7 linked regions of the Homo sapiens genome follow. The protein of the gene in region 3 interacts with the protein of the main gene of each other region in a biochemical or structural test. Each region holds a gene or a part of one and is shown on either strand. Other genes may lie near its edges. The genes, in order: NAP1L1, HIF1A, ISG15, BRAP, TPM4, KLHL26 and HDAC6.

Region 1 (3,500 bases), on a different chromosome or scaffold from region 3:
AACCAAAGTTCACGTTGCTGATAATTGGCAGTTGACCTCAGTGCAAAAGTGCCTTCCTTCTGCTCCTGTTTTGCCCTCAGTTTTGGGCTGGTGATTCCTTACTATCTTGTTAGCATTTCAGTGCTTTTAAGATTTTTAACAAAATGTTTTTGTTAAAAAACATCTGTACTTTTAATTCTTTTCCTTTTTTTTTTTTTTTTTTTTTGAGACAGGGTCTTGCTCTTACCCAAGCTGGAGTGCAGCGGTGTGATCTCGGCTCACTGCAGCCTCCTCCTCTGGGTTCAAGCAATTCTCCTGCCTCAGCCTCCTGAGTAGCTGGGACTACAGGTGTGTGCAACCACGCCCGGCTAATTTTTTGTATTTTAGTAGAGACTGGGTTTCACCATTTTGCCCAGGCTGGTCTCTAACTCCTAAGCTCAGGCAATTCGCCTGCCTTGGACTTTCAAAGTGCTAGGATTACAGGCGTGAGCCACTGCGTCCGGCCATATTTTTCATTGGTAGAATTGATCTGCATAATCTAGTTTGTCGCTTTCAGGAATGAAAGTTTTTCACAGAGATCTTGGAATGCAATTTAATGTATAACAAATAAGATTCTCACTGATTTTATTTAATGTCAACTGCAGTAAAATATTAATACAGGTATTAACCTAAACTTGTGTTTCTCAATGTGGTCTACCTGAGAACCACCTCTCAGAAGCTGAGTTTCTTGTTTAGAATGCAGATTTTTGGGTCCCACTTCCTCAGATGTTTTTCTGCTTTATATAGATGATGAAATAGAGCCAGAAGTTGTTTGTCTTAGTTTGTAGATTGCTACAAAGTTGATGTCAGCCCAAATGATCTGACTACAACTGACTAGAAAATTAGGTCTATCTTACAACCAAGAAATACAATGTAGCCAGAATGGGCAGGTTAGAGCAGCCTTCTCTGGAGGAGTAAATGCCTCCTGTTAATGTTCTGTAAATGTTCTGTCTTGGATCCTCTTTACTAAAGTTTCATTTTAAGAATTTAAACTGTAAATGTAATGCTGCAAATGGACATTGAGGTTAGCAGTGTAGCCATTCTGTGAACACATTAAAATGTTACAAAAATTTAAATTTGGAAGTTTTAGGTTTTGTTTCTGTTTTTGACAATTGCTGGGTTTAGTAGACACTATATATTAAACCTAGCAAATCTCAGAATAAATTTGTGTATTGGAAATTATTATATAAATCTGTGTGTTGGAAAACCAAATGCAGTCATGCACCACATAAATACTTAGCCATTATATTAAAGTTGCCTATGGTATTCAATACAGTCACATGCTGTATAGGTGTGTAGCCTGGGAGCAATAGTCTATATCATAGCCTAGGTGCGTAGTAGGCTATACCATCTAGGTTTGTGTAAGTATACTCTGATGTTTGAACAACAATACAATCACCCAGAGACACATTTCTCAGAACATATAATCCACACATGACTGTAATGGTGAATGGGAAATTAGTTCTCATTACCCCCAGTCCCTTCTTTCTCATTAGGTTACTCTGGTTAGGTTTTTGGTGTTTGTTTTCAGAAAGGGTTTATTTGTATTAAAGTATGTGCGTATATGAGTGGAGATATATATATATATATATATATATATATATATATATATATATATTTCCATATCCAAAGGGGATTTCGGCATACATCCTATACCTTGCTTTAGTGTTCCTTCATATCAACTCAGATCTGTTTCATTTGTGACTGCAAAGCATTCCATTTTTGCATATTCCATTATAGTACTAAGTTTATAATAAGCTTTGTGTGCTACCCCAAAGAAGACAACGCTATGATTGTCAAGATCAGATTTAATTCCTGTAATCATGAATTTTGTCAGTTGGGAGAGACAGACCATAGGTCAAACTAATTTATAATTACAGACTGAGACATCTTATGGTGGAAAGAAAAGAAAGCTTTATAGGAGTGTGTGTACAACCAAGAAATCTTACTTAACCGGAATGTGCAGGTTGGAGAAAGCATCTCTGGGGAGTGAAACTTTGAAATGAGAGCCAAAGGATGTGCAGGACTTGTTCAGAGCTGTGGAAGAACCTTCTAGGTGAACATGGAAAGCAAAGGCATTAGATTCTTTATAATTTTTTCATGGTAGAGCTCATAAGTGAATAAATCTGGAGATGGACATATTTTGTTTTTTTAATTTTTATGTTTTTAAGAGACAGTGTCTCATTGTGTTGCCAAGGCTTGTCTTGAACTCCTGGCCTCAAGCGGTCCTTCTGCTTCGGCCTCCCAAAGTGCTGGGATTGCAGGTGTGAGCCATGGTGCCTGGCTGAGATGGACATGTTTAAGGCTTTTGATATTCCTATTGTCAGGTTGCTCTCCAGAAAAGATACGGGAACACTAGCTGGAAATAAGGATGCATGTGCACTACAGGTTTCCCTGTATTAAAAAGAAGTTATTGATGATGTGGTAGACAAACTGGAATCCTACTTGGATTTCTTTGATGTCAGAGTTCAGTATTTTTCTTATTTTTGATTAATATTCATAATTGCTAAACACTTTGTAAATGCTGACTCATTACCCAGCATCACTAGAAAAATTCATCAGTACTATTAGGAATTATTTATAACAAATACAAAATATTTACAGAGTTAGATACATTAGGAAGAATAATTTTCTTTATAATTACTCTAAAGGATAGATACTAGGTCAGTAATAATGTTTCCCCCAAATATTAGCACTTAACTGCTAAAATCAGGATGTTTTCCATTTTTAACTCTTTGTTCATAGGCATAATACGTTGCTATGAAAGTAAACACATGCAGGATTTTGTGAATTAAATATGTATTAAGATTTTAATTTTTACCAGATAACTTGATTCTATTTATTCATAATTTTTTTAGAGACAGGGTCTTGCTGTATTTCCCAGGCAGGCCTTGAACTCCTGTGCTCAAAAGATCTTCCTGTCTCTTGGGCAGCTGGGATTACAGGCTCTTGGGCAGCTGGGATTACAGGCTCGTGCCACTGTGCCTGGCTAAGATAAACTTGATTTTAACATGGATTCTATCTAAACTTGGTTTAGTTTTTTTTGGTAATCTGTAGATTACCTGTGGCATTCTACCATTTTTTTCTGCCTGGATATAACACATCTGCTTTAAGATTTGTTTTTCCAAAAGCAGTATTCTCCAGGTTCATACTAATCTTTTAGTGAGAAGGAACTTAGGATATCCTCTGGTGAGTCTTAACAGTAAACTTACTCAGGTCTGGTAACCACAAGTCTTGACAATGTCCCTAGCATATCTAGGGGAAGCTGGAGGTTGGTGGTTGTCAGTTATCTAACATGAGGTACATGTACATTTGGAGAGATAGGGAAGGCTTACCTAACATTAAGATTGGGACCTAGAGCTTTTGAAATAGTCTAAATGGCTATTTGATCCAGGGATTAAGTCTTTTAAAAAGATATCCAGAGGGCATAGTGAGTACAGTAGGCATCAGATTTTGGTTTTCTTAAACATGAATTACATAAA
Region 2 (3,500 bases), on a different chromosome or scaffold from region 3:
ATTATTTATGTAAAATGTGAAAAAAAAGGTGTAAAAATTTTTCAACTGCCTATGATCATGATGAAAGGTTACTGCCTTCTTACAAAAATTATATTGGCATCTTCTTAAAAATAATTCGAAAAAGGGATAAACTCCCTAGCCAAAAATAAATAAATAAAAAGGTGCATTTTTTAAAATGATGCTACTGCAATGCAATGGTTTAAATACCAAAAAACTGAGAAAATGAGCTGTCTGTGATCCAGCATTAAAGAACATACTAAAAAAGAGCATTAATGTAAATTAAGTAGAAAGGGGATCAAAATTGAACTAACCAAGTTTGTGCAGTATTGTAGCCAGGCTTCTAAAATTAGATGTAGAAAATATAAATAGACTGCTTTAGGTAATGAGCCACCAGTGTCCAAAAAAAGGAATGAAATTAAGAAAAAGCTCAGTTAACTTGATCCAAAGCTCTGAGTAATTCTTCACCCTGCAGTAGGTTTCTGCTGCCTTGTATAGGAGCATTAACTTCACAATCATAACTGGTCAGCTGTGGTAATCCACTTTCATCCATTGATTGCCCCAGCAGTCTACATGCTAAATCTGAAAAACAAAAGAGATACCTAAGTATACATTCATCTAGTCAATGAATATTTATTAAACACCCACAATGTGTTAGGTATCATAGAAAATAAAGCAAAATTCTGGAAGGGTTTTTAGTTTACCTGGCAAAACCACAACTATGTTAAAAAGTAAGTATAATCCAGTGATACTGTTGCTGTGTCAGAAATGTTTACAGGATACAATAAAGGCACAAAGAAATAACAATTTGGAAAAAGGCATAAATATGGTGGGCATCAAAGCTGATGCCTGTAATCCTAGCACAGGCTGAGGCAGGAGGATCACTTGAGGCCAGGAGTTTGAAACCAGCCTAGGCAACATAGTGAGACCCCATCTCTACAAAAAGCAACCGGGTGTGGTGAGGCATGTCTGTAGTGCGAGCTACTCAGGAGGCTGAGGTAGGATGATTGCTTGAGCTTGAGCACAGGAGTTTGAGACTGCAGTGAGCTATGATCATGCCACTGCACTCCAGGCCTGGGCAACAGAGCGAGACCCTGTCTCAAAAAAAAAAAAAAAAAAAAAAGAAGTCATAAAAGTTCACAAATTTCAGCTTCTATCAATATTGACAGCACATGGACATAGAGAAATCAAAGAAAATTACTAAAAATGAAAAGCTCCACCTTGAAATGTTAATCTCTGTATTAAGACCATCACATGAAATACAACTGTACTTTTTTTTTTTTTTTTTTTTGAGGCAGAGTCTCACCCTTGTCGCCCAGGCTGGAGTGCAGTGGTGCCATCTTGGCTCACTGCAACCTCTGCCTTCCGGGTTCAAGCAATTCTCATGCCTCAGCCTCCCAAGTAGCTGGGATTACAGGCGCCCGCCACCACGCCCAGCTAATTTTTGTATTTTTAGTAGAGACGGGGTTTCACCATGGTGGCCAGGCTGGTCTCCAACTCCTGACCTCAGATGATCTGGCTGCCTCGGCCTCCCAAAGTGCTGGGATTACAGGTGTGAGCCACCGCGCCCAGCCACAACTTTACTTTTTAATCTTGCTAAGGAACCAAAGTCATTCTCACTTAGATTAAAGCTCCTAAATAAAAATGTTTCATGTATTTTGTCTTTGTGATGTTCAAGGTCAAAAAGAATAAACTAACCAGAGGGTATTAAAATAATTGTCTTTTGCTCCATTCCATTCTGTTCACTAGATTTGCATCCTTTTACACGTTTCCAAGAAAGTGATGTAGTAGCTGCATGATCGTCTGGCTGCTGTAATAATGTTCCCTATAAACAGTAAAGTTATTTCAAGTTTAGTTTGTTGAATTTTTTTTTTAAACAACCAAAAACCTTGAAATTGGTGTAAATTTAATAACATTATAGGCAGTTTCTTAAATACTACCCTAAATTATTTTGAATTCTTTCTTAAGTTATTTGTCATCCATTATGACCATTCTGTCTATAAATACTTTCCAGTTAATTTAGTTTGAAAATATCAGAATGTATTATACCACCATTGACTTACCCCAAAACATAGCAGTTCTTTTTTAAATATGAGATGGACTCTCACTCTCTTACCCAGGCTGGAGTGCAGTGGCCTGATCTCAGCTCATCGCAACCTCCACCTCCCGGGTTCAAGCTATTCTCCTGCCTCAGCCTCCAGAGTGGCTGGGATTATAGTTGTGCACCAACACGCCTGGCTAATTTTTGTATTTTTAGTAGAGACAGGGTTTCACCAAGTTGGCCAGGCTGGTCTCGAACTCCTGACCTCAAGTGATCCTCATCTTGGCCTCCCAAAGTGCTGGGATTACAGGCGTGAGGCACTGTGCCTGGCCAATAGCAGTTCTTTTAATAAGGCAAAGTAACTTAAAGGGAAGAGAATGAGATTGGTGGTGATATTCAGGGTGGAGTAAGGGGAGAACTTCACTTTTTAACTCAAAATACACTGGAATTGTTTGGAATTTTTATACCAAGAATGTATGTATTAAACATTTGTATTTTTAAAAACCAGTGCATACAGAGTAAAAAAACCCAATGTATAACTTCTGAAAATATAACTTTACTATTTGGAAGAAACGTGGAAACACACACACACACACACACACACACACACACACGAAATAGCACATTAGCTAGAAAAGCAAAACCTACTACTCATACTTACAATTCCTACTGCTTGAAAAAGTGAACCATCATGTTCCATTTTTCGCTTTCTCTGAGCATTCTGCAAAGCTAGTATCTTTGGATTTAGTTCTTCCTCAGGAACTGTAGTTCTGAAAAGAAAAAAATTCTAAATGAAAATATAGCGTTTTTAAAAAAAATATCCAGTGAGCGCTTTTAAAGAAAATACATAATTCTTTAGTTCTCCAATATTAAGGAATATAATATACATAAGATAACTTTCCTGATCACTAAAGTTTATCATCTTAAAAGTAAAAGCTTAATTTTTTTTTTTTTTTTTTGGTGAAACACGGTCTTACTCTGTCAGCCAGGCTGGAGTGCAGAGACGTGATCTCTGCTTACTGCAACCAAGCCCTGCCTCTGGAATCAAGTGATCCTCCCACCTCAGCCTCTCAAGTAGCTGGGATTATGACTAATTTATATATACATATTTTTGTAGAGACAGGATTTCACTATGTTGCTCAGGCTGGTCTCAAACTCCTGAGCGCAAGTGATCTGCCCACCTTGGCCTCCCAAAGTGCTGGGATTACAGGCGTGAGCACCTGGCCGTCAAAGCTTAATTTAACAGGAAATTTTCTACAGTATGCGTATCCCTATTTTATAAAATAGAGCTGAACACAACTAAATTGACACTATTGTAGAGTCAAAACAGTTAAATATTGTCCTTTTATTCCACCTAATATAACAATGCAGTGATATTGTTGGGACTATTGAAATACAAGATCAATCTCACATTCGTATAGCATTTTCAGTTTATAAAACATTTCAAGTTCATTAGTTCATT
Region 3 (3,031 bases):
CCTCCCTAGCCCAGCCCAGGCAGGTGGAGCAGGCTGTGTAGGCTGGGCTAGGGACGGCTGAGGTCCCCAGCCCCCAGTTCCTATGGAGAGCCTGCCTCACAGCCCACCGGGCAGGCCCCAAGGACTCACCCCTTACTGCTCCCAGGGGCCCACTGGGAGCCTCCCCTTTTGATCTGATCAGGCGGGTCCCTGCCTAAGCCGTCTGCTGTCCCAGATGGAGGACAGGCAGGATGGGCTCCAGCAACTGTGTCTCTTTTTCTTTTCCTAGAAGTTAATTTCCCAAAGGGTGGGGAGAGCTGTCTTACTTCAGTTTCGGGGTGGGGGGCTCCCTATTTTGATCCCTCGAAGCTGTAACTGCAAACCCTTATCCCTTCACTTGGCAGCCCAGGCCTGGTCACCAGGATGGACCCTGGGTTCTCCCTCCTGACTTCTCCCGCCCCATCACCAGGGGTCTGAGGCGGACGCTGGAGGAGGGGCAAGCACAGACACAGAGGCGGCCATTTCTCTTTACAACAGCCTTTATTTCCGGCCCTTGATCCTGCTCGGATGCTGGTGGAGGCCCTTAGCTCCGCCCGCCAGGCTCTGTGCCGCCTCCCCGCAGGCGCAGATTCATGAACACGGTGCTCAGGGGCTTGAGGCCGTACTCCCCCAGCGGGAGCTGGTCCTCCAGGGGCTTCCCCTCGAAGGTCAGCCAGAACAGGTCGTCCTGCACACCCTCCAGCCCGCTCACTTGCTGCTTCAGGTGGGCCACGGTCTGCGTCAGCCGTACCTCGTAGGTGCTGCTGCGGCCCTTGTTATTCCTCACCAGGATGCTCAGAGGTTCGTCGCATTTGTCCACCACCAGCAGGACCGTGCTGCCGGGGCCCAGGCCCTGGCTGGCAAGGGGGACCCTGTCCTGCAGCGCCACACCGCTCGGGTGGACAGCCAGACGCTGCTGGAAGGCGTGCACGCCGATCTTCTGGGTGATCTGCGCCTTCAGCTCTGACACCGACATGGAGCTGCTCAGGGACACCTGGAATTCGTTGCCCGCCAGCATCTTCACCGTCAGGTCCCAGCCCTGCAGGCGTCACACAGGTTCAGAGACTGCGGCGCCAGCCCCAGGCCCACCACACACAAGGCACTGGCTGCAGGGCGAGCTCCTGTACCCAGGGACAGTGCTCCCTCCTGTCTGTCCTCTACATCCCGCCGGCAGGGACCCCAGGCACAGAAGGCACTGAGGGCTCGTTACTAGAAGGCCAGCTGCCCACCGCCATCCCGTGGCCTCCCTTTACCTGCTAGGGTGCCCCTCTGTGCCCCACCCTGAGGATCTCAGGGGTGACCTGCTTTCAGGAGCACACTTAGAACCTGGCCAAGCTCTGAGCAGCTCCGCTCTCCCTGCACCCCTGGGAGACCTTGGCTGGGGGAGGGAGACGAAAATTGGCTGGCACAGAGCCCACCTCCCCCCACCTGTGACATCTGCCTTACCATGGCTGTGGGCTGTGGGCTGTGGGCCACGGCACAAGCTCCTGTACTGGCAAAGATGAGTTCGCTGCCTCTCAGCCGCCGGCTTCGGCAGGCAGCACCGGCCCTATTATAAGCCTGAGGCACACACGTCAGGGGGCGTGCCGCCGAGCCTGCGCTGGTGGCCAAATTTGGCTTCAGTTTCGGTTTCCCTTTCCCGAGGCATGCCCCAGAGTGAGCGGAAGAAACAAAACCGAATGACCGAAAGACAGGGAAAAGCAAAAGTGGCGGGGACTCCGGACAGCGGACGGCATCCCCACCCCCACCCAACACCCTGGAAACACCTAAATATCGCGCATTCCAGATCCTTCACAGGATGCACTAAAGCTGTCATCACATGGACTAATGGTTTCATTTTCCATTTACCAACTTGCAAAATTAGTAAACTTGGAAAACATCCCCATGGTTAATTGAGAAACAAGAACTCCAAACTACCCAGAGATAACAACACTCGGTTTAGGGCAGTATTTGCTCAGATTGGTGTTTTTTTGTTGTTGTTTTTGTGTTTTTGAGACAGGGTCTCTCACTCTGTCGCCCAGGCTGGAGTGCAGAGGCACGATCTCATCTCATTGCAACCTCCGCCTGCCAGGCTAAAGCGATCCTCTCACCTCAGCCTCCCACGTAGCTGGGACCACAGGGGTGCACCACCAGGCCCGGCTAATTTTTTGTATTTTTAGTAGAGATGGGGGTCTCGCCATGTCGCCCAGGCTGATCTCGAACTCCTGGGCTCAAGTGATCCACCTGCCTCGGCCTCTGAAACTGCTGGGATTACAGGCGTGAGCCACTGCACCCGGAGCCTCAGATTGTTTTTTAATAAAAGAGACCTATCTTTTATTTTCTACAAAAATGAACTCTGGGACACTATTGAGAAAGTGAAAAGACAATCCATAGAATGGGAAGAAATATTTGCAAATTATCTATCTGATGAGGGCATAGCATCCAGGACATATAGAGAACTCTTACAACTCAATAAAAAATAAAAATAAAAAAAAAAGGCAACTCAATTTTCAAATGGCCAAAAGACTTCAATAGACATTTCTCCAATGACATAGAAACGGCTGTAAAGTGATGTTCAACATCATTATTAATTGGGGAAATGCAAATCAAAACCCCAGTGAGATGCTATTTCCTGCTGGTATGACTGTAATAATAAAAATAAAGGCCAGGCCGGGTGCGGTGGCTCACGCCTGCAATCCCAACACTTTGGGAGGCTGAGGCGGGCGGATCACCTAAGGTCAGGAGTTTGAGACCAGCCTGGCCAACATTTTTAGTAGAAACCCCATCTCTACTAAAAATACAAAAATTAGCTGGGCGTGGTGGTGCACGCCTGTAATCCCAGCTACTTGGGAGGCTGAGGCGGGAGAATCCCTTGAACCCAGGAGGCAGAGATTGTGGTGAGCCAAGATTGCACCAATGCACTCCAGCCTGGGCAGCAGAGCAAGACAGTCTCAAAAAATAATATAAAATAAACATAAAGGCAGTAACAAGCACTGGGGAATACATAGAGGAACTGGAATCCTGGTACATGCAT
Region 4 (3,156 bases), on a different chromosome or scaffold from region 3:
CTGGGCAACAAGAGCGAAACTCCGTCTCAAAAAAAAATACACTTGTGTTAAGTAGAGCAAAATTCTTGCTTTGCATAGCTGATTGCGATGGCAGAAAACCATTCTCCCTCACGATGGGAGAAAGGGGTCTGTCCTAAAGGGATTCTGAGGTCATGGTTTCTCTGTTCAATCCCAGAGCAGAAAGGGGACTGTGTCAGCAAATGAAAAATGTGCTTTTGTCTTCCTTTGTTTTTCAAAAGGTGCACTCAGCTAAACACAAAAGTGGCCAAACTCACCAACGAGCTCAAAGAGGAGCAGGAAATGAACAAGTGTTTGCGAGCCAACCAAGTCCTCCTGCAGAACAAGCTAAAAGAGGAGGAGAGGGTGCTGAAGGAGACCTGTGACCAAAAAGATCTGCAGATCACCGAGATCCAGGAGCAGCTGCGTGACGTCATGTTCTACCTGGAGACACAGCAGAAGATCAACCATCTGCCTGCCGAGACCCGGCAGGAAATCCAGGAGGGACAGATCAACATCGCCATGGCCTCGGCCTCGAGCCCTGCCTCTTCGGGGGGCAGTGGGAAGTTGCCCTCCAGGAAGGGCCGCAGCAAGAGGGGCAAGTGACCTTCAGAGCAACAGACATCCCTGAGACTGTTCTCCCTGACACTGTGAGAGTGTGCTGGGACCTTCAGCTAAATGTGAGGGTGGGCCCTAATAAGTACAAGTGAGGATCAAGCCACAGTTGTTTGGCTCTTTCATTTGCTAGTGTGTGATGTAGTGAATGTAAAGGGTGCTGACTGGAGAGCTGATAGAAAGGCGCTGCGTTCGAAAAGGTCTTAAGAGTTCACTAACCTCACATTCTAATGACCATTTTGCCTTCCTGCTTGGTAGAAGCCCCAACTCTGCTGTGCATTTTTCCATTGTATTTATGGAGTTGGCGTATTTGACATTCAGTTCTGGGGTAGGTTTAAGATGTTAAGTTATTTCTTGTAACCTCAAAGGTAAGGTTATCTAGCACTAAAGCACCAAACCTCTCTGAGGGCATAACAGCTGCTTTAAAGAGAGGTTTCCATTGGCTATTAAGGAGTTATGAAAACTCCCTAGCAATAGTGTCATATCATTATCATCTCCCCCTTCCTCTGGGGAGTGGAAGAATTGCTTGAATGTTATCTGAAAAGAGGCCTGGTAGTAAACCAGGCCCTGGCTCTTTACCAGCAGTCATCTCTTCTTGCTCTGGGGCCAGCCAGGAAAAACAAACAACCCGGGGCACATTGGGTAGACTCAGTGTAGGAAAAATGGTGGCAGCTCCACTGTTTATTTTTGGTGACTTCGTACATCATTATGAACCGCAATTAAGGAGGAGGCTTAATGGCTGTTCCCAAACTCAAATCTCAGAGTGGGTATCCTAGCATCTAGCAAGACTGAGTGGGGAGATTTCTCATCCGTGTGAAAATGTAGAGTGAGGCCTCTGACTAGCTAATTGTGTATTTTGTTGGGTTTAGTATTTTCTAAATGTTTACAAAATATTGGGCTGCATGTTCAGGTTGCAGCTAGAGGGAGCTTGGGCAGATTTTCAATTACGCTTTCAAGATATAACCAAAAGCTGTTTCTAAATCCTAAAATTAGAATTTCAACAGAGCCCCCTTTAGAACAGTCATATAACGCTTGTGTGGGCCAACAGAGGGGCTGTGTACTCTCTCTGGAACCATAAATGTCAAATAATTTATAACCTGCAGTAATTGAGCAAACTTAAAATAAGACCTGTGTTGGAATTTAGTTTCTTGAAGAGGTAGAGGGATAGGTTAGTAAGATGTATTGTTAAACAACAGGTTTTAGTTTTTGCTTTATAATTAGCCACAGGTTTTCAAATGATCACATTTCAGAATAGGTTTTTAGCCTGTAATTAGGCCTCATCCCCTTTGACCTAAATGTCTTACATGTTACTTGTTAGCACATCAACTGTATCACTAATCACCATCTGTTTTTGTGGGATGTGCTGCAGCATTTCCCAAAAAACTTTACGTGTAATGTTGCAAAATGAATGTACTCAGACATTCTTAATTTTTACTTAGGGCAGACCAACTCTTTGAGTCTCTCTTGGACTTATATATACAGATATCTTAAGAGTGGGAATGTAAAGCATAACCTAATTCTCTTTCCTATAGAGATTCTATTTTATTTAAAATCTATTTTTACACTAGTTAGAATCCTGCTGTTTTGGCCAAGTACTTGTCTTGCATGTCTGACCTTGCAGAAGCTGGGGTGGATCATAGCATACTAATGAAGAGAATTAGAAGTAGTTTACAAAGCTCGCTCACTCCTCATTTCTCTGTGATCCCTTCTATCCAGTGGCCCCACCACCACCTGGGAAAACAGATTTTTCAGTACAGGTGGGATAAATGCTCTGAAAGGCTGTGCCCAGAGGAATGAGCAAATAGGCAAGTGTTTCCAAACTACTTGGAGGTTTACAAAAAATATGTCCCAGAAAAAAAAAAAATCTTACCAAGATACGTAAAGAAAAAAAAATTTTTTTTTAAACAGTCAAAGAGTCATGTTTGAATTTCACAAAATCACATCAGACAGAAGTTGTTTTCTTCAGGAGGGAAATGAACCACTTAATATACCCATACTACCTTGAACAATGAAATTGAATTAAAATAGCCAAACTTTGAAATTATTCTGCCCCGTGTGAAATGTGTGTCTCTGACTGACATTTGCTTGGGAGCATGTCTCTAATAATCTAAGAAAGTGTCGGCTGGGCACAGTGGCTCAGCGCCTGTAATCCCAGCACTTTGGGAGGCTGAGACGGGCGGATCATGAGGTCAGGAGATCGAGACCATCCTGGCTAACATGGTGAAACTCCGTCCCCACTAAAAATACAAAAAAAAAAATTAGCTGGGCATGGTGGCAGGCACCTGTAGTTCCAGCTACTTGGGAGGCTGAGGCAGGAGAATGGCATGAACCCGGGAGGCAGAGCTTGCAGTGAGCCGAGATTGCACCACTGCACTTCAGCCTGGGTGACAGAGCGAGACTCCATCTCAAAAAAAAAAAAAAAAAAAAAAAGTGGCCTTGATTTAAAAAGCAACGTAAAAATCAGCCCCTTGGTTGGGTGCGGTGGCTCACATCTGTAATCCCACCACTTTGGGAGGCTGAGGTGGGAGGAATGCTTGAGGTCAG
Region 5 (3,500 bases), on a different chromosome or scaffold from region 3:
CAGCCAGGCATGGTGGCTCATGCCTGGAATCCTGGCACTTTGGGAGCCTGAGGCTGGTGGATCACAAGGTCAGGAGTTCGAGACCAGCCTGGCCAACATGGTGAAACCCCGTCTCTACTAAAAATACAAAAATTAGCCAGGCTTGGTGGCATGCAGCTGTAGTCCCAGCTACTGGGGAGGATGAGGCAGAAGACTCACTCGAACCTGGGAGGTGGAGGTTGCAGTGAGCCGAGATCACGCCACTGCACTCCAGCCTGGGTGACAGAGTAAGACTCCATCTCAAAAAAACAAACAACAACAACAACAAAAACAAAAAAAAAACAGAAAGAAAGAAAAGGAGGGCTGGGTGTGGTGGCTCTCACCTGTGATTCCAGTGTTTTGGGGGACCATGGTGGGAGAATTACTTGAGCCCAGGAATTTGAGACCAACCTGGGTCACATAGTGAGACCCCGTCTCTACAAAGAATTTAAAAATTAGCCAGTCATGGTGGTGAGCACCTGTAGTCCCAGCTAATGGGGACGCTGAGGAGGGAAGATGGCTTGAACCCTGGAATTCAAGGCTGCAGAGAGCTCTGATTGGACCACTACACTCTAGCCTGGGCAACAGGGCAGGACCCCATCTCAAAAAAAAGGAGGAAGAAGCATAAAAAGAAGTAAGCAGGCCAGGCACGGTGGCTCACGCCTGTAATCCCAGTACTCTGGGAGGCCAAGGCGGGTGGATCGCTTGAGGTCAGGAGTTCGAGACCAGCCTGGCCAACATGGCGAAACGCTGTCTTTACTAAAAATACAAAAATTAGCCAGGTGTGGTGGTGGGTGCCTGTAATCTCAGCTACTCAGGAGGCTAAGGCATGAGAATTGCTTAAACCCAGGAGGTGGAGGCTGTAGTGAGGCCAGATGGCGCCACCGCACTCCAGCCTGGGGCGATGGAGTGAGACTCCATCTCAAAAAGAAAAAAAAAAAAAAGTAGGCAGAGTAGAGGCAGGCACCTTTCCCCAGCAGAAGAAATATGTGTGAAATGTGGAGGATGTTGGGGAGAGTCCTGTAGGATGGTATTGATCAGAAGGCCTAAACTGAGAACTTGAGATAAAAAGTATGGCGAAGAAAGGGAGATAACTGGGAATCTGTTACTCAAGGCCCCCTCTGTATTTCCAACCCCATTCTCCACCACCTTCCCCAGGGTGACAGGCACTCCCTGATCATAATCTGTGGACTCCTGAGTCCCAGTCCCTGTCCATGAATGCACCCCTTAGCATGGAATGTTCCCCTCCCCATGATGACCCATCAGAAATTATACTTTTCTTTTCTTTTTTTTTTTTTTCAGACAGAATCTTGCTCTGTCACCCAGGCTGGAGTGCAGTGGTACGATCTCGGCTCACTGTGACTTGCAACTTCTGCCTCCCAGGCTGAAGCAATTCCCCTGACTCAGCCTCCCAAGTAGCTGGGCCTACAGGCGCCCACCACCATGCCCAGCTAATTTTTGTTATTTTTAGCAGAGATGGGGTTTCGCTACGATGGCCAGCCAGGCTGCTCTCGAACTCCTGACCTCAGGTGATCCGCCTGCCTCGGCCTCCCAATAATAACTAACACTTATTAGCTGCTTACCATGGGCCAGACATAGTTAATGGCATCACAGCCTGGTATCTGTAATCCCATTTTATAGGGGAGGAAAGGGTCACAGAAAGGTGAAGTTATTATTTTGCCTAGGGTCACATGGCTATTAAGTGATCAAGTCATGACTGAAGCCTGACTCTGGAGTGCAGTGGGGCAATCTTGGCTCAATGCAACCTCCGCCCTCCAGGCTCAAGTGATCCTCTCACCTCAGCCTCCCAAGTAGCTAGGATCACAAGCATGCACCACCATGCCCAGCTAGTTTTTGTATTTTTGGTAGAGACGGGATCTCTCCATGTTGCCCAGGCTGGTCTCGAACTTCTGAGCTCAAGCGATCCTCCCGCCTCGGCTTCCTAAAGTGCTGGAATTACAGGCATGAGCCACCGTGCTGGACCTACAGCTGTTTTAAATGTCGCCTCCTTGGTGACACCGTTCACAACCTACCAAGGTCCCTCTATTGTATTCCCAAAGCACTCTGTGACTTTGTCAATCCCTTCCACTAGACTCGACTCTGAGCTCTTCAAGAGCAGATGCCAGGCTGGGCACAGTGGCTCACACCTGTAATCCCAGCCCTTTGGGAGGCCGAGGTGGGTGGATCACTTGAGGTCAGGAGTTTGAGACGAGCCTGGCCAACATGGTGAAACTCCGTCTCTACTAAAAATACAAAAATTAGCTGGGCGTGGTGTGTGCGCCTGTATTCCCAGTTACTCAGGAGGCTGAGGCAGGAGAATTGCTTGAGCCTAGGAGGTGGAGGTTGCAGTGAGCTGAGATCGTGCCTCTGCACTCCAGCCTGGGCGACAGAGCAAGGCTCCATCTCAAAACAAAACAAAACAAAGCAGCTGAGGTATTAGTGGTGTTACATCTATCCCCCTGGCCCGGGGCAGTGTCTGGCATACACACACCAACTGGATTCATTCCTTACACATCCTAGTATCAGATATATGCCAGGGCTGGCACATATGGGAGACAGAGGCAGGTGGATCACTCGAGGCCAGGAGTTTGAGATCAGCCTGGGCAACATGGTGAAACACCATCTCTACTAAAAAAAAAAAAAAAAAAAAAATTACACACACACACTACAGATATATGCCAGGCACAATGCTAGTACTAGGGACACAACTCTGAACAAGATGACATGGTTCCTGTCCTTACAACTTACAATCTAGCAAGGAAGGCATGCAATTAATGGAGTAACTATAATAAATGTAAGAAATCATAATGCCAGCAAAAGTATAGACAGGGCTACACAGCAGAGAAATACCTAACCTAGATGAGAAATCAGAGAAGGACTCTCAGAAGTGATGTTTAAGCAGAAGCTCAAAGGATGAACAGGAGGCCAGGCTCGGCGGCCTCCCAAAGTAATCCCAGCACTTTGGGAGGCCAAGGTGGGAGGATCACTTGAGGCCAGGAGTTCAAGACCAGCCTGGCCAACATGATGAAACCTTGTCTCTACCAAAAACTAGAAAAATTAGCCAGGCACGGTGGCCCACGCCTGTAATCCCAGCACTTTGGGAGGCTAAGGTGGGAGGATCACTTGAGGCCAGGAGTTTAAGACCAGCCTAGGCAACATAGACTGTGCTCTATAAAAAAAAAAAAAAAAATACAGTTTTGGAGTAGTGGCACATGCCTGCAAGTCCTAGCTACTCAGGAAGCTGAGGTGATAGGATTATTTAAGCCCAGGAGTTTGGGGCCTGCAGTGAGCTATGATCACGCCACTACACTTCCAGCCTAAGCAACAGAGCAAGATCTCATCTCTAGGCCAGGTGCAGTGGGTCATGCCTGTAATCCCAGCACTTTGGGAGGGCGAGGCGGGCAGATCACTTGAGATCAGGAGTTCGAGACCAGCCTGGCCAATGTGGTGAAACCTCATCTCTACCAAAAATTATAAAAATT
Region 6 (4,194 bases), on a different chromosome or scaffold from region 3:
TTCTTCCTGCAGAGCAACCGGCTGCAGAGCTGTGCCGAGATCGACCTGTTCCGCGCGGCCGTCCGCTGGCTGCAGCATGACCCGGCCCGGCGGCCGCGCGCCAGCCACGTGCTCTGCCACATTCGCTTCCCGCTCATGCAGTCGTCCGAGCTGGTGGACAGCGTGCAGACGCTGGACATCATGGTGGAGGACGTGCTGTGCCGCCAGTATCTGCTGGAGGCCTTCAACTACCAGGTGCTGCCCTTCCGGCAGCACGAGATGCAGTCTCCGCGCACCGCCGTGCGCTCGGATGTGCCCTCGCTCGTCACCTTCGGCGGCACGCCCTACACCGACAGCGACCGCTCGGTCAGCAGCAAGGTCTACCAGCTGCCTGAGCCGGGAGCCCGCCACTTCCGCGAGCTCACGGAGATGGAGGTAGGCTGCAGCCACACGTGCGTGGCCGTGCTGGACAATTTTGTGTACGTGGCCGGGGGGCAGCACCTGCAGTACCGCAGCGGCGAGGGCGCAGTGGACGCCTGCTACCGCTACGACCCCCACCTGAATCGCTGGCTGCGCCTGCAGGCCATGCAGGAAAGCCGCATCCAGTTCCAGCTGAACGTGCTGTGCGGCATGGTGTACGCCACGGGCGGCCGCAACCGAGCCGGCAGCCTGGCCTCCGTGGAGCGGTACTGCCCCCGGCGCAATGAGTGGGGCTACGCCTGCTCGCTGAAGCGCCGTACCTGGGGCCATGCTGGGGCCGCCTCAGGGGGCCGCCTCTACATCTCGGGTGGCTACGGGATCTCAGTGGAGGACAAGAAGGCCCTGCACTGCTACGACCCCGTGGCCGACCAGTGGGAGTTCAAGGCGCCCATGAGCGAACCCCGCGTGCTACACGCCATGGTGGGTGCCGGCGGCCGCATCTATGCCCTCGGGGGCCGCATGGACCACGTGGACCGCTGCTTCGACGTGCTGGCTGTGGAGTACTATGTGCCGGAGACGGACCAGTGGACCAGCGTGAGCCCCATGCGGGCCGGCCAGTCAGAGGCCGGCTGCTGCCTGCTGGAGAGGAAGATCTACATCGTCGGGGGCTACAACTGGCGTCTCAACAACGTCACGGGCATCGTACAGGTGTACAACACGGACACCGACGAGTGGGAGCGGGACCTGCACTTCCCGGAGTCCTTCGCAGGCATAGCCTGCGCCCCCGTCCTGCTGCCCCGGGCCGGGACCAGGAGGTAGCCCCCAAGACCCCCGGGACCCTGGCCTGACCGCATGTTGTCTCCAAGTGGGGCTTGGCGAATGCACGTCTGCCTGAGAACCCCAGTGCCCCCCTTCGCCCGGGCTGCCCTTGAGGGGCCTGCTGCGTTGATAAGCCCCCCTCCCAGGGGTCCCTCCCTCCCTCCTTCCCAAAGCAGATCCTGGCTGCGAGTCCATCCGAGGGAGCCTGCCGGCAAAGCGTCTGACATGTGGTGGCAGCAAATTCGTCCCCGGGGTGGTTTCCTCGCCTGGCCCCCGAGTCCCCACGGGCTGGCGGGTGGAATCCCAGGTCTCCAGGGGGTCCCTGTGCAGCTCCATCTCACTTCTCTACTGCCTCCCAGCCCCACGGTTTCAGGCATTCAGATGTGAGCTCATCAACATTGAACCCAAAGTCGGTGGTATATGACTCACCCTCCTTCCAAGTCTCCTGCGCGCGTGTTTTTAAAATAAACTCACCCGAAACGTCCGTAACACACGGACCTCCAGGAGCAGTGAGAGGTGGCTTAGAAGCCCCTGGTTTGGGGTGGGTGGAGGAGGAGGGCACGTGTCTGCCTCCCCTGGGGTGCCCTCCTTCCCCCATCCCAAGCTGCTGAGGGGAGGCCCTGGTCATGCCTCAGTTCCTGCCTTCATCTGCTTTCCGGAGGAAAAACCATATCAACTCCTAGAAACGCTCCTTAGGGGCTTGGGACCTTCCATTTGGCACTGAGCATCTTGTGGGGCCTTAACTGGCTGAGACATCCCGGCCCTCTACATTTGCCCTGTTGGCCAGGCAGTCCCCTTCCCGCAATTGGAGGGCGACGCTAACTTCAGAATCCCATAGTGGCGCTTGCCGCAGGTCTGGTGGGGTGTCTTTTTTCTCCTCCCTCCTTTCCACCCCTCCGCGCCCTGCCACTCCCTGGCCTGCCCTGTTTTTGGGTCAACATTGCTACGGAGCCAGCAGTGAGGCCTTTCCCTTCAAGGGCTCTGTGGTATCTCTGGCCACATTTGTTCTAATGTCTGAACCTCTAAATCTTTTCTTTTTGATTGGTTTTACTGTTTTTAAGAAGCCAGCACTGCTGTCTCATAGATGGGATTTGTACTCTTGGGGCAACTTAAAGTGTCTCTCTCGCTGCTAACAGACGATTGATGTCTTGTCTCTGTGACCCACTCACCATGTAAAGAATTAACCTCCTATCTTAGCAGACATCGTCTCCTAATATTTCCCTTTATTTAATAAAAATGTTATGGTGAAGAGATGGAGCCGGCCCAGCACTGAGCTTGTGCGGCTTGGGTCTGATTGGTCACAGATTCCTCGTGTGTCCTCCGCGTGTCTGGGGGCTCCTCTCCCCCGCCTCAACCTTTTCCAGCCTTTCAGAGGAGTCGGCAGTGGGCTGGGCTTTGGCTCAGGGGCGCAGAGGCAGCAGGAAGCGTGGCCAGGACTTTCACCCTGGCGTTTTTTGTTGTTGGTTTTTTTGTTTTTTTGAGACGGAGCCTCGCTCTGTCACCCAGGCTGGAGTGCAGTGGCGTGATCTCGGCTCACTGCAACCTCTGCCTCCTGGGTTCAAGCAATTCACCTGCCTCAGCCTCCCAAGTAGCCAGGATTACAGACGCAGACACACACCACCACACCCGGCTAATTTTTGTATTTTTAGTACAGACGGGGTTTCACCATGTTGGCCAGGCTGGCCTTGAACTCTTGACCTCAGGTGATCCACCTGCCTCTGCCTCCCAAAGTGCTGGGATTACAGGTGTGAGCCACCATGCCCGGACCAACCTTGGCACTTTGGAAGAGCCTTCAGCCCCCTATTCTCATCATGGCCGGCCAAACTATGAACTGGGCTGCCCAGAGCAGGCCACTTATCAGTTGCAGGTTAGCAGAGAAAGCCTGATGTTCCCGGACGGCCTTCCCAGAAGGGAGGCCCTGGGATATCACACACACATGGATCTCCATAAGTTGCTGTGCCTGCATGCCTGGCGCTCCTGTGTGGCAGCCATCGGGGCTGGGGTAACACTAGAGGCTGAGGGGGTGGGCAGTGCTAAAATAGGAACATGGTTGGGAACCTAAAAGAAGCCCACACTGTCAGGGGCATCGAGACAAAAGCCGAGTTCCCTGGGGACTTACCAGAACATTCCAGCCCCACCCCCGACCTGAGCTCCCCCAAAGAGAACCCTTCCCCACTGGAGGCATGGCCCCTTCAGGGGAGCAGTGAGAAGCTTTGCCAGCTGCAAGTCCCCTGGATCAGCTCACACCTCAGAACATCTTGTCCCCAGTGAGCTGGCAGGGGCGCCGGCCCAGGGCGGGGGGCGCTGCTGTATCTAACCGGATCGATTGTGCATAACCGTCTAGGCCGGTTCGTGGAATGTTCGTGGGGCCCCCTGCCCCTCCCTCAGCCTCCCCCCGCATCCCCCCAAGAAAGGAAAATTATTTTTCGTATTGTAAACTTTAAACATGAAAAAGCTGTTTTTAATTTAGCAGAAACTGGCTTGAATCTTCACTTTGTGAACGTTTGTGTCCTTCAGAGGCAGAATATGCCTGCGCACACTCGCACATGCTCATGCACACACCTGCACACGCATGCCGCAACACGCACATTCACATGGCCGTGCTCGTGCACGCCTGCACACGCATGCTTGCCCATACCCACGCATTGCAGCGCGTTCACACGCTCACCCGCACACAGTGAAACACAAGCTCACACATATGCACACACACACATATCTGTGCATGCACCCCTGGACCAGCGTAGCCCAATCTGCCTGGCGGCCCAAAGGGGTCTGGAGCCCGGCACCGCCCCGAGCCTGGGGGAAGCCTGTCTACTTCCAGATGCCCTGCCTACTCGCTGAGGCCTGGACGCCGGCTGCAGGAGCCTCCCTTGCACCTGGGCTCAGGCTGTGGGAAAACGCTGTCTCTCGGGACGGTCAGATGCAGGCCCGCAAGAGGGAGGCCAAGTGCGACTTCTGGGGCCTCTCAGCAAGTGA
Region 7 (3,500 bases), on a different chromosome or scaffold from region 3:
TTTAATCTGCCAAGGGTCTGTCATTCAAAGAATTCTTTAATATCATTAATCATTCTTTTTGTTTGAATAAATGCATAGGAGGCTATAGCTGTGTGTTCTTTCATGGGTACACTATTGATTACACACACAGATGTGAAACACTGTGAATATATTCAGTGCATTCTTCCTTATTAACAAACGTGTGTAAACAAACAAACAAAAAGAACATGTCCATGCCCTTGGATCTCCCAGCTCCCCATCTCTCAGTCTCTGAACTCCAGCAGCAGGGAGACAAACTGGATAATCCTTAAAATACTGTTGTGAAGACAAGGAAAGCAGATGATCTAAAACTAAGTAGTTAAAAGAAACAAGTAACTTTGTTGTATTGGTGATTCAGTGAGTTGGCTCTTCAGAAGGGATTTTGTGTGCATTGACCTGGATCTGTACTGGATTTCTCCAGAAAGGAAACTTCAGCTTATCTTGGGTGCCCCCTTATCCTGCTCAGCATGAGACAGAGCACCCTGGGGCCCCTGGAATCTCAAAGTCTACTTTCTAGAAATTCATTGAAGTCTCTTATTCTCTGACATCCTTTCCACTCTCTCTTTCTGGGTTGCTGTTTGTTTACAATTTCTTTACTGTATTTTGAATGGGGTAGTAGGAGGTTGAGGAAGTAAACCTGTGCTATCAATCCACCATTTAACTTGAAGGTGGTTGAACTTATTTTGAATTTCCCTTCTGTTTTCTTTTTAAACTTAGCTTGAGTGCTAGTTCTGCTGTTTATTGACTTTGATGGCTCTCTTTTAGAGTCAGCTTTCTTCAGATCTTTTCTTTCTTCCTGTCTTCCCCAATGATATTTTTTTCTTTTCCTTTCTTTTTTTTTGAGACAGAGTCATGCTCTGTCGCCCAGGCTGGAGTGCAGTGGCCCGATCTCGGCTCACTGCAACCTCCGCCTCCTGGGTTCAAGCAATTCTCCTACCTCCACCTCCCAAGTAGCTAGGATTACAGGCACGCGCCACCACGCCCAGCAAATTTTTTGTATTTTTAGTAGAGACAGGGTTTCGCCATGTTGGCCATGCTGGTCTCGAACTTCTGGCCTCTAGTGATCCGCCCACCTTGGCCTCCCAAAGTGCTGGGATTACAGGTGTGAACCACTGCGCCCAGCCCTCTGGTGATAATTTTTATGTCCTACTGTGTTTCTCTTCCTCTAATGATTAACTTACTAAAAGTTTAGAACCAAGATTTATCTATCAATGTCAAAAATAAAACAATCATCCTCCACCTACTCAACACCAGAGCTTTTGCTTGTTTTTATTCCCCAATTCCAAGCTCTTTTCCCTCAATTTTAAGAATCTTTCTATATCACTTGCATTAAATTTCACAACTACATTATCAACCCATTAAAATGTGACTCTTAAGTTTGTCTAGATTCAATGCATACCACTATTTCTTGCATTTCCCTAAAAAAGCTGCCTTAGATCCTCTCTGGAACAAAGCAGGGGGTAAATGACCAGATAGAAGGATGGATGGATGATAGATTATTCATTTTGCTTTCCCCAGTCAGAATTAAGCCCTCCCATGGCCCCTTGCTGGGCTTTCTGTCAAAACACGTGCATCGCATCTTTTCAGTATCTGTTTTGCGTGTCGGTCATACTCACCCCTCTGAGTGCTCATTCTCTCGCCTATAAAATAGAAGAAGTAGTAGAGGTGGCCTGTAAGGCATTGGGGAGGAGGAACTGCCCTTTCACTGGCCTCATGACAGCCCCAGCCAGCACCCCCGCTCTAGTTCCACCCACAGAAGCAAGTCTCACCCCTACCCCCCAGGTCTCTCCACTTCCTGCTAGAGAATCACCCAGCTCCCCAGCCTGGCTTGAGGCTCTTTTCAGCCTTAGCTGGCTCCCCGCAGCTAAGAGCCCCATGCTCCATTTGGGCCTCCAGTGTCACAGGGTTTGACCTGCTGTTACTACTACCTTTGTCATAGGGGCAGGTAGTGGGCGGACATGATCTAGAGTACCCCACAGAGTCAGGAGCCCCCATGATCTGAGATAGACCCTAGAGCTGAGCCTGAAATTGGGTGGGCACTGAGGGGGCAGCGATGTTTGCTGAGGGAGAGGTTCTGGTGAGAGACTAAATGAATGAGCGAGTGAGGTAATGGATAAATAAAGATAAGAATGAAAAAATGGTAAGATGATTAAATTGGTGACTGAATGTAAGGGTAAATTAATGGAAGAATGGATTCATGGATTAAATAATTAATGGGGAAATTAATGAATGAGAGAATGAACGAGTGGTTGAATGGGGAAATGAGTGGTAGAGGAAACTGGCAACTGTTGGGTTGGGGGTGTCTATGGGGATTGACTTCTCCAACTCTCTTACCTCTTTTTCTTCTGCCCCCAGTGTCCTCTATTTCTCCATCCACCGCTACGAGCAGGGTAGGTTCTGGCCCCACCTGAAGGCCTCTAACTGGTCCACCACAGGTTTCGGCCAAGGCCAAGGATATACCATCAATGTGCCTTGGAACCAGGTCAGCATCTACCCACCTCTGCCCCCAAAGTGAGGCCCAGCCCCGCCCTTCTGTCAGCGGCTCGGGACAGGTGGCTGAACATCCCCCATCACACTCCTGTGTCTGCAGGTGGGGATGCGGGATGCTGACTACATTGCTGCTTTCCTGCACGTCCTGCTGCCAGTCGCCCTCGAGGTCCTGGGGATCTGGGGTGTGTTGGGAGGAGGAGTGGCCTTGAAGGTTAGGCTGTGAGGGTAGGTAGCCTCATGGAGTCTGTTCCCCCTTCAGTTCCAGCCTCAGCTGGTCCTGGTGGCTGCTGGATTTGATGCCCTGCAAGGGGACCCCAAGGTAAGGCAGGCTCCCTGGGGCGGCAGGTGGGTTGCATGGAGCCAGGCTGACCCTCCATGTCCCCCCAGGGTGAGATGGCCGCCACTCCGGCAGGGTTCGCCCAGCTAACCCACCTGCTCATGGGTCTGGCAGGAGGCAAGCTGATCCTGTCTCTGGAGGTGAGTGACTCACCTTCGTCCCTCAGCCTGTGGATCCTGGAGGGCTTAAGAACGAAGCTTTCAAGTCCAACAGGAGTTCCTGGCCCAGGAATTCACTTACTAGCTGGACAACCTTGCATAAGTCACTTCACTTCTTTGTGCCTCCGCTTTCCTTCTATAAAACGAGCATAATGTAATCACCTCATATCATTGTCCAGTGAATTCAGTGAGGCACCCTTCTAAGTTCCTTGTTGCTTGACATGTGGTATGCACTCTCTTATTATCATCATTATTATTATTCCCTGGTCATGTCTGGTCCTTTCCTGATCCCCCTTCACAACTCCTTGCCCCAGGGTGGCTACAACCTCCGCGCCCTGGCTGAAGGCGTCAGTGCTTCGCTCCACACCCTTCTGGGAGACCCTTGCCCCATGCTGGAGTCACCTGGTGCCCCCTGCCGGAGGTGAGCCCCGGTGGAGGAGGGGAAAGCGGGAGCCTCACTGCCCGCCCACATTCCTTGACATCATATTTTCTCCCTG

Evidence for each region.
Region 1: the proteins of ISG15 (region 3) and NAP1L1 form a complex in vitro, tested with the Homo sapiens proteins (one large-scale study listed by BioGRID).
Region 2: the proteins of ISG15 (region 3) and HIF1A form a complex in vitro, tested with the Homo sapiens proteins (one study listed by BioGRID).
Region 4: the proteins of ISG15 (region 3) and BRAP form a complex in vitro, tested with the Homo sapiens proteins (one large-scale study listed by BioGRID).
Region 5: the proteins of ISG15 (region 3) and TPM4 form a complex in vitro, tested with the Homo sapiens proteins (one large-scale study listed by BioGRID).
Region 6: the proteins of ISG15 (region 3) and KLHL26 form a complex in vitro, tested with the Homo sapiens proteins (one large-scale study listed by BioGRID).
Region 7: the proteins of ISG15 (region 3) and HDAC6 form a complex in vitro, tested with the Homo sapiens proteins (3 studies listed by BioGRID).

Annotation. Positions count from the first base shown.
Region 1 is NC_000012.12:76,074,686-76,078,185, reverse strand, and holds part of NAP1L1 (nucleosome assembly protein 1-like 1), read left to right. Parts: intron 1-3,500. UniProt on the Homo sapiens protein: Histone chaperone that plays a role in the nuclear import of H2A-H2B and nucleosome assembly.
Region 2 is NC_000014.9:61,744,013-61,747,512, reverse strand, and holds part of HIF1A (hypoxia-inducible factor 1-alpha), read right to left. Parts: intron 2,809-3,500; coding exon 2,700-2,808; intron 1,823-2,699; coding exon 1,696-1,822; intron 580-1,695; coding exon 428-579; 3' UTR 1-427.
Region 3 is NC_000001.11:1,012,010-1,015,040, reverse strand, and holds ISG15 (ubiquitin-like protein ISG15), read right to left. Parts: upstream 1,545-3,031; 5' UTR 1,468-1,544; coding exon 1,465-1,467; intron 1,058-1,464; coding exon 563-1,057; 3' UTR 501-562; downstream 1-500.
Region 4 is NC_000012.12:111,641,646-111,644,801, reverse strand, and holds the end of BRAP (BRCA1-associated protein), read left to right. Parts: intron 1-239; coding exon 240-603; 3' UTR 604-2,656; downstream 2,657-3,156. UniProt on the Homo sapiens protein: Negatively regulates MAP kinase activation by limiting the formation of Raf/MEK complexes probably by inactivation of the KSR1 scaffold protein.
Region 5 is NC_000019.10:16,089,995-16,093,494, reverse strand, and holds part of TPM4 (tropomyosin alpha-4 chain), read right to left. Parts: intron 1-3,500. UniProt on the Homo sapiens protein: Binds to actin filaments in muscle and non-muscle cells. Plays a central role, in association with the troponin complex, in the calcium dependent regulation of vertebrate striated muscle contraction.
Region 6 is NC_000019.10:18,668,028-18,672,221, forward strand, and holds the end of KLHL26 (kelch-like protein 26), read left to right. Parts: coding exon 1-1,218; coding exon of another isoform or gene 1,219-1,247; 3' UTR 1,248-3,694; downstream 3,695-4,194. UniProt on the Homo sapiens protein: May play a role in endo(sarco)plasmic reticulum (ER/SR) mitochondrial signaling. May be part of the ubiquitin-proteasome system (UPS) and affect ubiquitination and degradation of target substrates in cardiomyocytes.
Region 7 is NC_000023.11:48,812,067-48,815,566, forward strand, and holds part of HDAC6 (protein deacetylase HDAC6), read left to right. Parts: intron 1-2,373; coding exon 2,374-2,500; intron 2,501-2,608; coding exon 2,609-2,674; exon of another isoform or gene 2,675-2,767; coding exon 2,768-2,827; intron 2,828-2,895; coding exon 2,896-2,985; intron 2,986-3,317; coding exon 3,318-3,424; intron 3,425-3,500.